2 separate regions of the Homo sapiens genome follow, and region 2 is linked to region 1. The links come from fine-mapping of genetic effects on gene expression. Tissue or cell type: aorta. Region 1 holds a variant in brackets; the other region holds the start of a gene. All regions are shown on one strand. Distances are between the middles of the regions.

The links. PIP is the estimated chance that this variant, and not a neighbour inherited with it, causes the effect.
Region 2: it holds the start of RAP2A, and the variant in region 1 is fine-mapped to the expression of RAP2A in aorta (GTEx, PIP above 0.99).

Annotation. Positions count from the first base shown.
Region 1 is chr13:97,785,644-97,793,751 of GRCh38, forward strand. No RefSeq gene overlaps it. Among named protein-coding and RNA genes, the nearest start is that of IPO5, 160 kb to the right of the region's middle. The variant G/A (reference allele first, on the strand shown) is at 4,986.
Region 2 is chr13:97,430,097-97,438,188 of GRCh38, forward strand. It overlaps RAP2A (RAP2A, member of RAS oncogene family), which reads left to right and starts at 4,073. Exons shown (of 2, transcript NM_021033.7): 1 at 4,073-4,688. The coding sequence starts at 4,375. RefSeq lists enhancers at 3,170-3,309, 3,257-4,188, 3,460-3,589, 3,610-3,659 and silencers at 3,810-4,169, 4,190-4,249.

The sequences.
Region 1 (8,108 bases):
GCCCTAGCAAACTAATACACAGAAAGAGGGTTTTAGGGGTCTCAGTTTCTTACCAACCAGGAGATCCCTGAATTATTTATACAAATTACTAGTCTCTTTCCCAGCTCCCTGGTCTGCTAAGTTATGTAAAATAAAAGACCCTGTCAAACACTTTCCCCAGGTCAATGCCTATGGACTAGCCGTGCACATAAGTTATTTTTTTAAAGTAATTCTACTAAAGGTCTCCTATATACAAGGAAATAATGTCATAAATTTTCTCAAATTTTACAGCAACAAATAGATGTCACTTTACATATACTATCAATTTAAGTATATACATTACAAGTTTGCTTTGTTTAACTACAGATTGTTTGATCCCGGAAACATTGGAGGAACAAATCTTAATGGCATTTAACGATGCCAAATTTGAATGCCTCATTTGATAAATCAGAATTTTTCTGAGCAAATTATTTGTTTCAGCATTTGCTTATACTATGCACATATGGATATCTGAAATACATCCCTATGAAACAAGAAAAAATATAAATGGATTAATTAAGGAGTTGACTCAAGAAGTTAAAAAAAGTAACAAAGTAAGCCAAGGGAAAGTAGAAAAAATGAAAACATTAATACATTAAAAAAGAGATCTCATATAATTGATAAGTATACATGAGCTATTATTTTCTTAAGAAAAAATGAAGCTATATTTAGCCTTTTTTTCAATGAGAAAGAAGAAAGAAAAAATAGTAATGGCAAAGAGAAGAGTACCACAGATACAGAATAAATTAAAGACTTAAGGGTCTTAACTCTGTCTATAGCTCTGTAAATACATTTGAAAATATGAGTAAAATGAGTACCTCTCTTCTTAGAAAATTAAAATTACCAAACTTGATATCATAACAGAAATCTTGTCCTCACAGATCTGTATCCTTAAAAGAAATTAAAATCTTTTGTCAAATGATCTCTTCCTGACAAAAATGCGTCAGTCCTGAAATTTTCCAATGTGAATTCTCACAATCTTCCAGATTTGAATTCCAATACTATGTACACTTTTTCAGAGACTACAGGAAGCAGGAACATTGCTGACTCATCTTTTAAAGAGCAAAAATAAGACTTTCACTTCTGCCCATAGTGGAGTAATAAATAGAAAACAAAGTCACCCTCTCACCTGAACAAAAACAAGAAAAACAAAGCAACAAAATATGTAAAACAATAGCTTTGAAGACACTGGACATCAGGCAATGAAGGAAGGTGATCCCTGGGAGTTGGGCAGTCAATAAAATGAGCCCTGTGGTCGCCTAGCTTACTTCTGCCAGAGTTTCCAGGCTCTAGCAAGGGGTGACCCAGGTGGAGAAGGCCATGGACTCCCTGAATTGAGGAGATAATGCTGAGAGCCCAGGGAGACCCAGGCATTTAGATTTTGCAGGAGTGAGCAGTGGACTGGAGGAGTATAGAAGGAAATTGTATTGATTTATTTTTTTTTTGAGGTGAGTTCTCACTTTGTCACCCAGGCTGGAGTGCAGTGGCGTGATCATGGCTTACTGCAGCCTCTACCTCCCAGGCTCAAGCAAAGGTACATTTTTTCCTCTGAATCACCTTTGCACTATTGTTGCAGACAATTGTCCACATATGCATGGATCTATTTCTGGACTTTCTATTCTATTTCTTTAATATGCCTATCTTTGCACTAATACTACACTGGCTTATTATAATTTTATAACTCTTGAATCAGGTAGTGTTATCCCCCCATCTTCGTTTTTTGTTAAAGTCATTCTGCCTATTTGGGGTCCCTTGCACTTGTAAAAATTTTAGAATCTGGTTGTATATGTCTACAAAAATTAATGCTGTGATTTGTTTGGAATTGTGTTGAATCTAGAGATCAATTTAAGAACTGACATCATAGCAACTTTGATTCTTCTGACCTATAAACATATTTATCTGGGTCTCCTTTGATTTTTCTCAGAACATGTTACAGTTTTCAATGTACAGGCATTACATATCTTTTGTCAGATTTATCCCTAAGTAGTTAACATTTAGGTGCTAATTTGTTTTATAGTTCAGTTTTGGATTGTTCATTCCTAGTTTACAGAAATAGAATTAATTTTTAAGTATTGATCTTGTACCATACAACTTTCCTAAACTTATTTATTAGTTCTAGTTGCTTTTTGTAGATTCCATCTGATTTTCTATTTAACTGATTATGTCATTTGCAAATAAAGACAGTTTCACAATCTGGGTGCCTTTCCTTTTTCTTGCCTCATTGTGCTATCGTAGACCTCCAGAATAATGCTGGATAGAAGTGATGAAAGCAGACATTCACCTTTTCCTGACCTTAAGGACAAACTATAAGTCTTTCACTATCACAAATGTTAGCTGTTGGTTTTTCTTAGATTTCCTTTATCATGTTGAGGAATCTCCTTTCCATTTCTAGTTTGCTGGAAGTTCACATCAGGAATGGGTATTAGATTTCATTAAGTGTTTTTGTACACCTACTGAGATGACCAAAGGGTTTGTCTTTGTTGGGAAAGGCAGTCTCCTACGTGTAGTCTTTTGACCCATACTTGACTGTGTAAGAATGGGCCCTGGGCCTGGAACACTTTCTTACCAAAGTATGAAGAGTCTTCACAGGCTGTGCTGAGCTTGTTGCCTTGTGTGGGAATATCTTTCCCTATTTCAGACCCAGTGTGTGCTTTTATTTCTGCTTAAGTGTGTGTATCACATGGTACTTGGCTAATCCCACTGTTATATCTGTTCTCTGCAGGGAGGGGTCAGGGTCCTTCTGCTGCAGTACAAAAGGCATGTGTGCAGGCCAGCTGCCAGGAGAGACCCACAGGCCATGGAGACTGACACCAACTACTGAAACTGATCTTGCTCTGTCTCTTCTTGTGTGAATAAAGCATTGTTCCATCCAGTGATTGACTGAATTGAATTTTCTTTGGTGGCTCCAATACCAAGAGGCAGTGGGCAGAAATGCTCAGACTTCTACTCCTGATAATAGGCAACAGACATCACCTGTTCAACAGATTAATTTTTGTGTTAATATGGTGAGATACACTGGATGATTTCAAGTGTTAAACCAACCTTGCATTCCTGGTATAAACTCCACTTGCATAAACCCTCTTGTATGTATTGCTGAATTTTATTTGCTAAAAATTTGTCAGGATTTTTTGCATCTATGTTCCTCAGGACATGGACCTATATTTTTTTTCCTTACAATGTCTTTGCCTGGGTTTTTATATGAGAGTAATACTGGCCACAAAGAAACAGTTGAGAAGCATCATAATCCTCTTAAATTTTCTGGAAGAAAATTTGTAGAATTTTAATTATTCCTTAAATTGCAGAATTCACCAGTGAAGTAGCTGGTATGAGAGTTTTCTTTGCTTTAAGGTTTTTAACTACAAATTTAATTTATGTAATAGACAAAAAGCAATTCAGGTTATACATTTCATCCTAAGTAAGATTTGTTAAGTGTATCCTTAAAGAAATTTGACCATTTCATCCAAGTTGTCAAATTTATTACCATAAAGTTGTTCACAGTATTCTCTTATTATCCTTTTAATCCCTGTAGAGACTGTGGTGATGTCACCTCTTTCATTTTCTTTTTCCTGATCAGTCTTGCTAGGGGATTATCAACATTATTGATATTCCCAGAGAACTAACTTTTGGTTTCAGTGATTGATTCATGAAAGGTCCATATATGCAAAATGACACCCAAACATAGAAGGAGCCAAGAAACCAAAGAACAAGGCAGACAAATCCAGTCAGTTGGCAGAAGGTTATTTACTGGGGAACTAACAAACAGGAATGTGGTCTTGGGCAGCCACAAGACAGGTAGAACTCCATGCTGCTGCTCTTCAGGCCTGGGACCTATGTACAATAGGGAAATGTTATACATGCTCCAGGCCTGGGACCCATGTACAATAGGGAAATGTTATACATGCTCCAGAGGGAATGTGCAGGACAATTAAAGTCTTCTTTCTGGGAAAAAAAATACGTGCCTTATAGCCTGTAATTTATGCTATAACATCCAGTTTGTTTTCACCTAAGGGCAAGATTTACAGAAATTATGTGTTCATGCATAAGGAACTGTAGATAAAGTAGAAATCTCAGAGGCATTCCCAAAACTACAGTTAATCAAAAGTCAACATGGAGGACTAGCATCCAAGATGGAGCTACTTTAGCCTTCCTAGTGATTTTTTTTTCAGTTGTTTCATTTATTTCTACTCTTACTCCTATCGTTTCCTTTCTTCTGCTTCTTTTGGATTAAATATACATTTATTTTCCTAGTTTTTAAGGTGGAAGTTGAGGTGATTGATTTGAGTTCCTTATTCTCTTTTACTGACTGCTAAAAATTCCCCTGTAAGTACTGTTTTAACAGCATGCCACAAATATTGGCATGTTAGGTTTTCATTTTCATTCACGTAAAAATATTTTCTAATTTCCTTTTAATGTCTACTTTGACTAATTTATTATTGAAAAGTGCAGTATTTACTTTTTAAATCTTTGAAAACTTTCCAGATATTTTTCTGTTTTGGTGAGAGAACATGCTTTGTATGACTTTAATTCTTATAAATGTATCGAGACTTGTTTTATATTTCAGAATTGGTTTACCATGGTCAGTGTCCCATATGGACATGAAAAAAGAAATGTAATTTCTTTTACATATTCTACTATTATATATTCTAAATAGCATATTCTACTATTATTGGGTAGAGTGTTCTATTAATGTCAATTAGGTCAAGTTGATTGACAGTGTTGTTCAACTCTTCTACATCCTTGAAGATTTTCTGTCTCCTTTTCAAACAAATTATTTAAAGAATGGTATTAAAACCTCTAGCTGTGGATTTGTTGATTTCTTCTTGCAGATCCTGCACCTTTTACTTTATTTTTAAAAATCTCTGTTATTCAGTGCATAAACACTTATGATTTCTTCTGTCCTCTTGATGAATTGACCCTTTTATCATTATGGAATGACTTGTTCTATTTCTGGTTGTCTTCTTTGTTCC[G/A]AAATCTACTTTGGCAAATACTATTACAGCCACTTCTGCTTTCTTTTGATTAATGTTAGCACAATATCTTTTTCCATTCTATTACTGTTTTTACTTTTTGAGACAGGGTCTTACTCTATCACCCAGGCTGGAATGCAGTGGCATGATCTCAGCTTACTACAATCTCTGCCTCCCAGGTTCAAGCAATTCTCATGCCTCAGCCTCCCAAGTAGCTGGGATTACTGATGCATACCACCATGCCCACCTAATTTAGGATTTTTTTTTAGTAGAGATGGGGTTTCACCATGTTCCCCAGGCTGGTTTTGAACTCCTGAGTTCAAGCGATCTGCCCACTTCAGCCTCCCAAAGTGCTAGGATTACAGCCATGAACCACTGAGCCCAGCCCCATCCTATTACTTTAAATATAGCTCTGTCTTTATATTTAAAGAGTATTTTTTTGTAAGCAGTATATAGTTGGATTTTTTATCTAATCTGAAAAATCTGCATTTTAATTGGGTATTTAGACATTTACATTTAATATTATATGATTAATGATATGGTTAGACTTCAATCACCCATCTTGCTATTCATTTTCTCTTTGGCCTATTTGTTCTTTGTTTCCTTTTTCCTCTTTATTTACCTTTTTTTTTCAATTCATTTTGATCTCTTTCAGATGTGTCATGAATATAACTCTGTTTTTTTTAGCCATTGCTTTAAGGGTTTATGGCACATATTTTTAACTTATCACAATCGATGTTAATATTATACCAATTCAGCAATAGTGTGAGAACCAGATGCCCCTCAACTTCAATGGGGTGATATCCCAAGAAACCCATCATAAGTTAAAAATATCAGAAGTCACAAATGCATTTAATTACACCCAACCCACCAAACATTATAGCTCAGCCTGCGTTGCCTTAAACGTGCTCAGAACACTTAAACTAACTTACAGTTGGGCAAAATCATCTAACACAAAATCTGCATTATAATAAAGTGTTGAAAATCTCATTTAATTTATTGAATATTATACTGCAAGTGAAAAACAGAAGGATTGTATGGGTACTCAAGTATAGTTTTTACTTCATGTGTACCACTTTTGTACCATGATAAAATAAAAAAACTAAGTCAAATTGTATTAGTCCATTCTCACACTACTATAAAGAAATACCTGAGACTGGGTAATTTATAAAGAAAAGAGGTTTAATTGTTTCATGGTTCTGCAGGCTGTACAGGAAGCATGATGCTGGCATCTGTTCAGCTTCTCAGAAGGCCTCAGGAAACTTACAATCATGGCAAAAGGTGAAAGGGAAACACACATATCATCATGGCTAGAGCAGGAGCAAGAGAGGGTAAGAGGGTAGGTGTTGCACACTTTTAAACAACCATATCTCATGGGAACTCACTATCACAAGAAGAGCAGCAAGTGGATGGTGCTAAACCATTCATGATAAATTTGTCTCCATGATTCAACCACCTCTCACCAGGCCCTACCTCCAACATTGGGGAGTATAATTCAACATGAGATTTGGTGGGAACAGATCCAAATAATACCATTCTGCCCCTGGCCCCCCAAAGCTCATGTCCTTCTCATTTTACAAAACAAAATCATCCTTCTGAACAGTCCTCCAAAGTCTTAACTCATTTCAGCATTAACTCAAAAGTCCACAGTCCAAAGTTGCATCTGAGACAAGACTACTCCCTTTTGCTTACGAGCCTGTAAAATAAAAAATAAGTTAGCTACTTCCAAGACACAATAGGGGTAAATGCATCAGGTAAATACTGCCTTTCCAAAATGGAGAACTCAGCCAAAAGAAAGGGGCTATAGAGCCCATGCAAGTCCAAAACCCAGCAGGGCCATCATTAAATCTTAAAGCTCTAAAATAATCTCCTTTGGCTCCATGTCCTAAATCCAGGTCACAATGATACAAGGAGTGGGCTCCTTGGGAAGTTCCACCTCTGTGACTCTGCAGGGTACAGCCCCTGTAGCTGCTGTCACAGGCTGGTGTTGAGTGTCTTTGGCTTTTCCAGGCACACGGTGCAAGCTGTCAGTAAATCTACCATTCTGGGGTCTGGGAGACAGTGGTCCTCTTCTCACAGCTTTACTAGGCAGTGCCCCAGTGGGGACTCTGTGTGGGGCTCTAGCCCCACATTTCCCCTCTGCACTGCCCTAGTAGTGGTTTTCCCTGAGGGCACCATCCCTGCAGCAGTCTTCTGCCTAAACATCCAAGCTTTTCCATACATCTTCTGAAATCTAGGTGGAGGCTCCCAAGCTTCAACTCTTGTACTCTGTGCACCTGCAGGCTTAACACCACATGGAAGCCACCATGGCTCACAGCTTGCACCCTCTGAAGCAATGTTCTGAGCTGCACCTGGGGCCCTTCTAGCTATGGCTGAAGATGGAGTGACTGGGATGTGAGGAGCAGTGTCCTGAGGCTGCATAGGGCAATGGGGTCCTGTGTCTGGCCCACAAAACATTCTGTCCTCCTAGGTCTCAGGGCCTGTGATAGGAGAGGCTGCCACAAAGATCTCTAAAACATCTTTGAGGCCTTCTCCCCATTGTCTTGGCTATTAGTATTTGGCTCCTTTTCACTTATGCAAATTTCTGCAGTACTGGGGGAACCCACCCCCAATGTTTCAACGTAGGTTCTTTCTATTTTCCCTAAGTGTTGGCCTGTCTGATAAATAAAGAGAAAGAGTACAAAGAGAGGAATTTTACAGCTGGGCCGCTGGGGGTGACATCACATATCAGCAGGTCCGTGATGCCCACCTGAGCTGCAAAACCAGCTAGTTTTTTTTAGGGATTTCAAAAGGGGAGGGAGTGTACATACAGGGAGTAGGTCACATGCTTCAAGGGGCAAAAGGCAGAGCAGAGATCACATGCTTCTGAGGAAACAGTACCAGAGCAAAATCAGAAACTCCTGATAAGGGTCTATATTCAGCAGTGCGCACATTGTCTTGATAAACATCTTAACAGAAAACAGGGTTCGAGAGCAGAGAACGGGTTTGACCTCAAATTTACCAGGGCTGGGGTTTCCCAATTCCAGCAAGCCTGAGGGTACTGCAGGAGACCAGGGTGTATCTCAGTCCTTATCTCAACTGCATAGGACAGACACTCCCAGAGCGGCCATTTATAGACCTCCCCCA
Region 2 (8,092 bases), 360 kb before region 1:
TCCGCAGAATCCTCTAGCTCTTAAGATTCTTCAGGCTTTTTCTTTTTTCTGCCTACATTTTAATCATTACGTCTTTTCTTTCAGATTTTTTTTCTGATTAAAATGGCCTTTTGAAACATCTACTCTCTCCACCCATACGTTTCTTTTATTGAGTTGTTTCCATACTCTTAATTTCTGCATTCTAATTCCTTTTCTTTTCAAAAGCACTGAGACATATCACATTTTTTAAAGGAAGAACAAAGTTTATTTTGCCCCTTCCTTTCCACTCCACATATATACTGCAGATTCTCAACTGTATTAGGAGCCTCACAGGTCAAGAAACCATCGTCTGCTCTCCTTATACTTGCCAGCAGCGTTTCACAGGTGCTAAATGTACTTGACATGCCCTTCCCCTTTATGTTTAATCAGAGGCATGCAGGCTTTAATAAGAAGCATTAGGAATCAGGGTTTTACAGTCGAAAAGTACCCCTCGCATTACAAACATCCTCTACTAATTTGTTTCTATTAAATTATCTGCATATTTGCTTCTTGCTGGTGTCAGGAAGTCCCAGAATACAGTACCTTTCCCACTTCATACCACCTTTTCCAACACCTTTTACAGAAAGAAAGGATGGACTTGGGTTTCCACGGTAACACAAGTGCGATAATTGAAGGTATCTGGCTATAGGTGAGATAACTCCCTTTCAGATTTAGTGGAGAGAGGAGAAATGAAGATTTTCTTTCTTTTTATTCTCCTGGCAATGCACTTTGGAAACTAAAGGGATCCTGCAGTGTCAGTTACTGCGTTAAGTTTTCACTATCTTACAGATTTACAGCTCTTGGGAATAATTCAAATTTCTTTTATATCATTTTTATTTTTTATTTCCCACAAACAAATGAAGATATAAGTTATTTCTATAATCATCTCAAAATAGAGTTTATGCTGGCATCGGAATGAACATGACTAAGGGGTTAGAAAATAGACATCCATCTCCCACCCAAGTCCTCTAAATTCTCTACACGTCCTGACATCCTTTTTATAGCAGCTAATCTTTCACCCAACATTTCACCTACAACCACAAATCAGGTAAGTACCATCATTTAAGCCAGAATAGGTGAGAAAATATGCTCCGACCTGTCATGTTTCTTTTGCCTCTTGGTGGTTAAAAATCAACCTTTATGGTACTGAGCATGAAATCTGAGGCCTGTCAATATAAGGCCTGTAAATAAATGAACTGTAACCACCCCAAGGGCTGCAGTCTCTATACCCCTTCTTATCAAAAACGTCAGCATTGATGAGAGGTCAGGGGAAATAGCCTGAGAAATGTCACAAAGCTGTCCTACTCTGTATTATGCTAAATGGAGTGACTACGGAGCCCACTCACTATTTTTGTGACAGCTTCAATCCAGAGCTTCTCAACATCTAGGGACCTAGGAGTCATGAAAACAGTTACTTAAGGCAACCTTCTGGACCCCACAATCCCAATACAAATTTCTCAAAAACATTAATCACTGGAACTTCATTCCTTGCAAAGTAAATGGACTTAGAGCTCCTTTGTAATGCAAGGTACTAGATGAGTTGTCATGATCTAGAGAGAAAGCTTCACGCTTCCTGGCTCTATTTAACAACCCTAAGAACTTCTTATCACCAAGATGCACAGTTAGAATCTTAAGACAGTCTGTCTTTCCTTGGAAAAGAAGTATAGCTTCTACTAACCCAAAGTAACCATGAATAAGCATACCAATTTTACACAAAATATGAGACTTCTGGAAAGCTAGGTGAACACCATACTTACCTACATCCTCTTGAAACATCCCTGCCAAAGTAGCTCAGATATGAAGCATCCATGTAAGCTCTTTCAATTTTAATTCACTATTTCATGTTAACTAGCCTAGGATGAAATAGTAGATCCTCTTCGGTTCCAGTTCCCTTAAAACAGTCCTGATTCTTAGTCCTTTTTATTAATATAATACCTTCACTGCTGATTCTGGTGGCTCAGATAGTACCATTCATATTTTAATGATATGTAATCAAGAAATGCTGAGTTATATTTTACTACATACACATTTTTAAATTCAGAGGACATTTGTCCTTGATAATTTTAAATGAAAACTTGGTGTGTGTTCATTACAGCAAGGTAATGCAAATATAAGTTATCCATTCTAATATAACGAAGCTATAGGGAAATAAGAAACTACTAAATTTGAGTAGTCTTTGTAGTAGTTTGACTATCGACAGAAAAGATGGTGAAAGAATACCTGGCTTTTAACTCAGACCAAAATCCCCTCTGCATGATGACCTTGTGGGAAAGAGGAACGGGGAGAGGTATGCCAGGCTCTAACAACAGAACTACAGAAACGTGTTATTCGCAGGAAATGTGCGACAGTAACGAACAGGTGAGACTAGTTTGAGAAGGACATAGTTTAAAGAAAGTAAACTGAATAACCAGTTACTGCAAAAAATAATGCAGGAAAGCTTGGGGATGTATCGTCTCCTAAATTTGACGTTATGGGTGGGAGAGGATGTGTAACTAAGATGCAATGCTAGCGACAGAACGCTAAGTTTTAAAACTCAATAGTGAAAGAAAAAAAATAATGTTTTGGGAGGAACGCCTGGAAGACCCATGCAACTGCTGCACGATGTTTCCTTAAGGACCGGAACATTTCTCACCCTGAAGACAAAAGTCCCTGTGTTCTCGATTCAGCCCACATCCCTCAGCACCATTTCCATGCCCATCATTTAGGCAGAATGCCACGGAGGCGACGTGAAAAGTGGAATTCATCATTCTGGCTTGCAACGCATCTTGTTCTTTTGCCAGAACAGGGCACAGCAACTGGCTCCTCAATCTCTGCCCCTCCCAAACCCCAGCAGCCGGTCCCTGTCTCCATCCCGCCGGCCTCGGTGGCAAGGGGCTCGCGAGCTCTGGTTGGCTTGGCCGAAGCTTCCGTCACTCGCCAGCTCACCTACGATTGGTTGGCAGAGCGTGCGCGAAGAGCCCCGCCTGGCAAGGCACTGGGAGGTGGGCTTGCGGATCCTACGACTAGCGTTTTTCTCGATTGGTTGAAGGAGTAAAGGCACGTGGTATGGGGGCGCTCTCTTATTGGTCGTGAATGGTACCTTGTGGTACAGAGACGTGATGTGGTTGGCTAGAATGAATCCCAGCTTCCCACTAGATGCCCCTAGCTGGCTGTTGCTATGAGGAGTCCAGGGCCTTCCGGCTGCCGTTCGGGATTCCGCTCTCCAGGTTTTCAACTCACCCGTGGCTGACAGGGCGTGGGAAGAGCTCGACTTCAGTTCGGCACCGAAAGGGGCGGGTCTAGAAGAAATGTGGGCGGGTCCAGAGGGTTGGTGGGCGGGACCCCGGCGACGTCAGCGGGCTTGGACCCGACTTCCGTGGTGTGTGGCCGCCTCTGACTCGCCCCTCTGGCGCGCTGCTAGAGGGGGGCGTCACCCTCCCATCAATGTCCTAACGCTCCAAAGCTTCATTTTGTTGCGTTTACACAACTTCAGTCAGAAGCCTGTAGGTGCCCCCCCCTTAAAGCTTCACATGCTAATACAAGATAAAACCAAAGCTCTAGGAGTGCTGACAGACTGGGTGGCATCGGACAAAGGCCCTCGCGGCCCCTCTTGGGCCTTGGGCATCTCTCCTTCACTCCCCGCCTCAGGATAAAGCTTGGAGGTAGCTCTAGCCCCTCTACCATCTCATCCCTTCCGAATTCTTAATGTCTCGGGAGTCTCAGGTTGACGCTGCTCCTGGCTTGGGCGGGAACTGCGCATGCTCGGTACACAGGCCCTGGGGTCTGACTGGGCGCGCTGGGTTCGGCGCTGCTCGGCGGTCGCGGTGCTTGTTTATCTCCGCGCGGGCAGAAGCTTCCGAGCCCCGCAAAGCCTCTCGGGAGCGCTCGCGGCCCGTCGCCTAGGGGGCGGGGGCGGGGCTGCGCCGCGGGCTCCGCCCCGGCCGCCGGACCCCGCCCCTGGCCGCGCTGCGGCTGGGGCTCGGGCGCGCGCTCGAGCGCTGGGGGTAGCGGCGGCGGCGGCGGCGGCGGCGGGCGGGGATCTGGGCGTGGAGGCGCGAGGGGCGGGGCGGGCGGCACTGCGGGCCCGCGGCTCGGGCGGCACCAGCGGCTCCCGGTCTCTCTCTCTGCTCGCCCTCAGTCCCACCCGGTGCCTACGGGGCCGCATCGCCGCCCGGCTCGGCCCGGCCCATGCCCAGGGCCGCTGCTCCCTCAGTTGCCGCCGCCGCCGCCGGCGCCCAGGGGGCCGCCGCGGCTGTGAGGTGGGGGCGGCAGCGGGAGGCGGCGGGGCGGGCCGCCGGGGCCGGGGCTGGGGGCGCAGCGCGGCCGGCGTAGGTCTATGTCGCGGGCGGCGGCGGCGGCGGCGGCCGCGGAGGGACGATGCGCGAGTACAAAGTGGTGGTGCTGGGCTCGGGCGGGGTAGGCAAATCCGCCCTGACCGTGCAGTTCGTGACCGGCACCTTCATCGAGAAATACGACCCCACCATCGAGGACTTCTACCGCAAGGAGATCGAGGTGGATTCGTCGCCGTCGGTGCTGGAGATCCTGGACACGGCGGGCACCGAGCAGTTCGCGTCCATGCGGGACCTGTACATCAAGAACGGCCAGGGCTTCATCCTCGTCTACAGCCTCGTCAACCAGCAGAGCTTCCAGGACATCAAGCCCATGCGGGACCAGATCATCCGCGTGAAGCGGTGAGCGAGGGCACACGGGGGCTTGGCGGCTGCACCCCGGAGTCACCGTCCCGGGGCTGGAACTCCCCGCGCGGGGCTCCGGGGAAGGGGCTTTCTGGGGGGTGGCTCCAAGCTGGAGGCTTTACTATTGTCATTCTGCTCCTCCTCCTCAATCTCAAATTTGAGTGCTTTGTTTCACAACTAAAATTTGGCATCGTGTTAGCCCACAGAACAGCTCTTTGTCTCTTGGACGTTGTTAGCATTGCTTGTTACAGAGCCCCCAAGGAAACAAAGTTTAAAACTTGCAGGGGGGAAAGGGGTGGATAGATTTGTCTTGGGAAGAGAGGAACTGTGCAGGTATAGTCGAGACATTTGCAGACTGAACAACAACAATCTGCCTTGGCAATGTTTGACAGTAAAAATCGCTCACACACCTATACAGTAAAGTCAAGTCCAGAGGAAGGAGACCTTTCTCATCTCGTTAAAGGTTTATGGTTCCAAGGCGTTTTACAAAAATTAAGTCTCTAATTTAGTGCAAAACTTTAAAGACAGATTATTAAATTATTTGAAGACATCATAAGCTAAATGGGGTTTCGAGAATATTAACAGAGGAGTACAAATAAGCCATTCACAGGAAAAGAATGCAGCTTAACTGTTTGTTTTTGTTTTTTTGTTTTTAATATAGCCGCCTTAACCCCTTCCAAAAAAAAAAAAAAAAAAAAAACACCACCACACCACCACCACCAGTTCCTGGAAACAAAACAGAAGCTTCTTCAAAAGTGTGACACAAGTATTAGCTAATTTAAAGTTAATGTTAATAAGCCTTTATATATATATATAAATTCTTTTCTAAAGTATACATTTTGGAAATATGGCTGATAAATGATTTAAAATGTTTGTTTTCTCTTAAATTCACTGAATATATTTTTCCGTGTAATTTTAAGCATTAGAAATGTGATAATATCTTAGTTCAAAGTTTTGGCAAATTTTTCTAATTATCATTTAATTACACATTACTGTTTCATCTAGTTCTTGTTAGTTAATGCCTGCTGATAATTTTGGTGTCCTTTTTTTCCTGCCTTATTCTACCTAGAGCCTAAATCTGAAGACCTTTACTGAAAGATGGTTGTAAGTGCACCGTAGACACAGTCACATTGTAAGTCAGTTTGAGTCCACTCATTTTGAAAGAGCAAGGACCAAGTTATGTGTACCCAGGGGATGATCAAAAATTCATTACGAGTAGTGAGTTTTTAATGCAACCTATGAGATCAAAGAGAAGGCTCTCTCTCTATTGCTCCACCCCCCCTTAACTGAGTATGCACTTTAATCGCTGAACTAAAATCGTGCATGTTATTCATCCTTGTGTTAAATTCCAAACTAGAATAAAGCAGATATTTTCGTGGTCTCTGCTGCTAAGATTTGTAAATTTGATAGCTTTGTACTTCTCCAGTATCATTTTCCTAAAGTTAAATGTTTATAGTTAAGAGATGAACAATTCTGGTGTTAAACTTAGTATGAGGATGGCATTTAAGGGGCTACATTTAAGTTACTTAAATTCTTATTACCCCCTCCCCCAACCACTCAATTAAAAAGAAACAAACCAAACCAACTGCAGGGTAGTCTGATACATTGCCACATGTCAATGTTAGGCCAAATGCATACATCAAAAAATAATCTAAGTAAATGCCCCAACAGCCTCACCCTTCACATTTAGATATATATGCTTAAAGATATGAAGATGCACATATACACTGATAAAGCCACATACCCATGGCTAACTTCTTGACACAAGCCTAGGGAACAAATATGGCAAAATATTATTGGATAATATGGTCCACATAATTTTGTAGTTTCTTGTAATTTAGTGCAGATTACTTTTCTCAGTTATAATAATAGGTTAGTCTAAACTCAGCATATTGGAGCAATTTGTTTATTTTCACTATGACCCAGAGGAAAAACATAGAGTAAAATTCTGCATGCCCAGTATCATTTTACTCACTAGTCTCAGTTCTTGATATAAAAAGATCATTGATCAGCTGAAGTAGAGTTCATAAATTCTCTTCACCAGAATTCAACCGTTGTATACATAAGAACCTCTTGGACCCTCACTTGTGTGTCTTTGTAATATGGTAGTAGTAAGGTATTTTACACCTCATCCTAACCCCAGCGTCTGGCTTCCCATCATTGATGGAGAGGACATGTGAATGCAGGTGGCCTCTTCTTTACCAGTCTTTCAGTATTTGATATCTACTGTCAAATTCAGTATTCAGCTTTAGGTCTAGGTCAGCACTTTTCAATAGAGATATAACGTGAGCCACATATGTAATTTTAACATTCCTAGTAGCTGATTTTTTAAAAATAACATAAATATATGGAATTAATTTTAATGTATTTTATTTAACCCACCATATTTAAAATAGAATCATTTTGACATGTCAGTATTCAAAAATTATTAATAAGGTACTTTACTTCTTTATACTGTGTCTTCAAAGTTTGGTATGTGTTTGACCTACCACATCTCAATTCAAACAAGTCACATTTCAAGTGCTCAGTAGCCGTATGTGGCCACAGGCTGCCATATTGGACAACAGAGGTCTAAGGTGTATATGATTTGGGGAAATGCTTGCTTATTTCTCTAAGCTTCAGTTTCCTTATCTGTGAAATAGAGATTAGCATGCACCTTCCAGAGTCCTTGTTAGAATTAAATGAGATAATGTATTTTAACATTCCCAAAACAATACCAGTACACAGAAATTGCTCAAAAAATTCTAGCTGTCATTCTTACTTTAATAACTTTGTCATTTATCTTCCTTAAATGTTACCCTTGATATAAATGTAATTTTAGAAGAAATAAATTTGTAATTGCATTTTGGAATTCATTACTTAGTATATTCAAGATGAGACTAAAAAGCAATGAGGTTAAAATAATCCTTGGAAGAATTGTGTTGGTATTCTCTTGAAATTATTTCCCCTTATGAAGGATCTGATGGAAAAGGGCATGAGAATGAACATTTAACTTCAAGTACAGTATAGCAATAATGCATAGCACTAATGCATAGCCAAACAACGAATGGAGCTTTTCATTTTTCATTTTCATTTCAAATAATAGCAGTCATTTTCAAGGATTGCTATTACTTGAAATGTTTCACTTTTAAGAAATGTGAAACTGACCCATACTCCCTTAAGTGTCTGTAAGTGTACATACCTCCGTATACATACATGACCTCTTGTCAAAGCCAAGTGGACCAACTGAAAATGGCTATATTTGTAAATTCATATGCTTTCTTTTCTTAACTTGATTTTGGGTGAGATGACACACACAAAGAAGAGTAACAGGGATATAGGAAATGTTTTTCAGTTGAAATAAAACTAGAATTTTTTTCTGATTTTGTAATTGCTTTTTTCATTGTTACCCATGCCAGGAT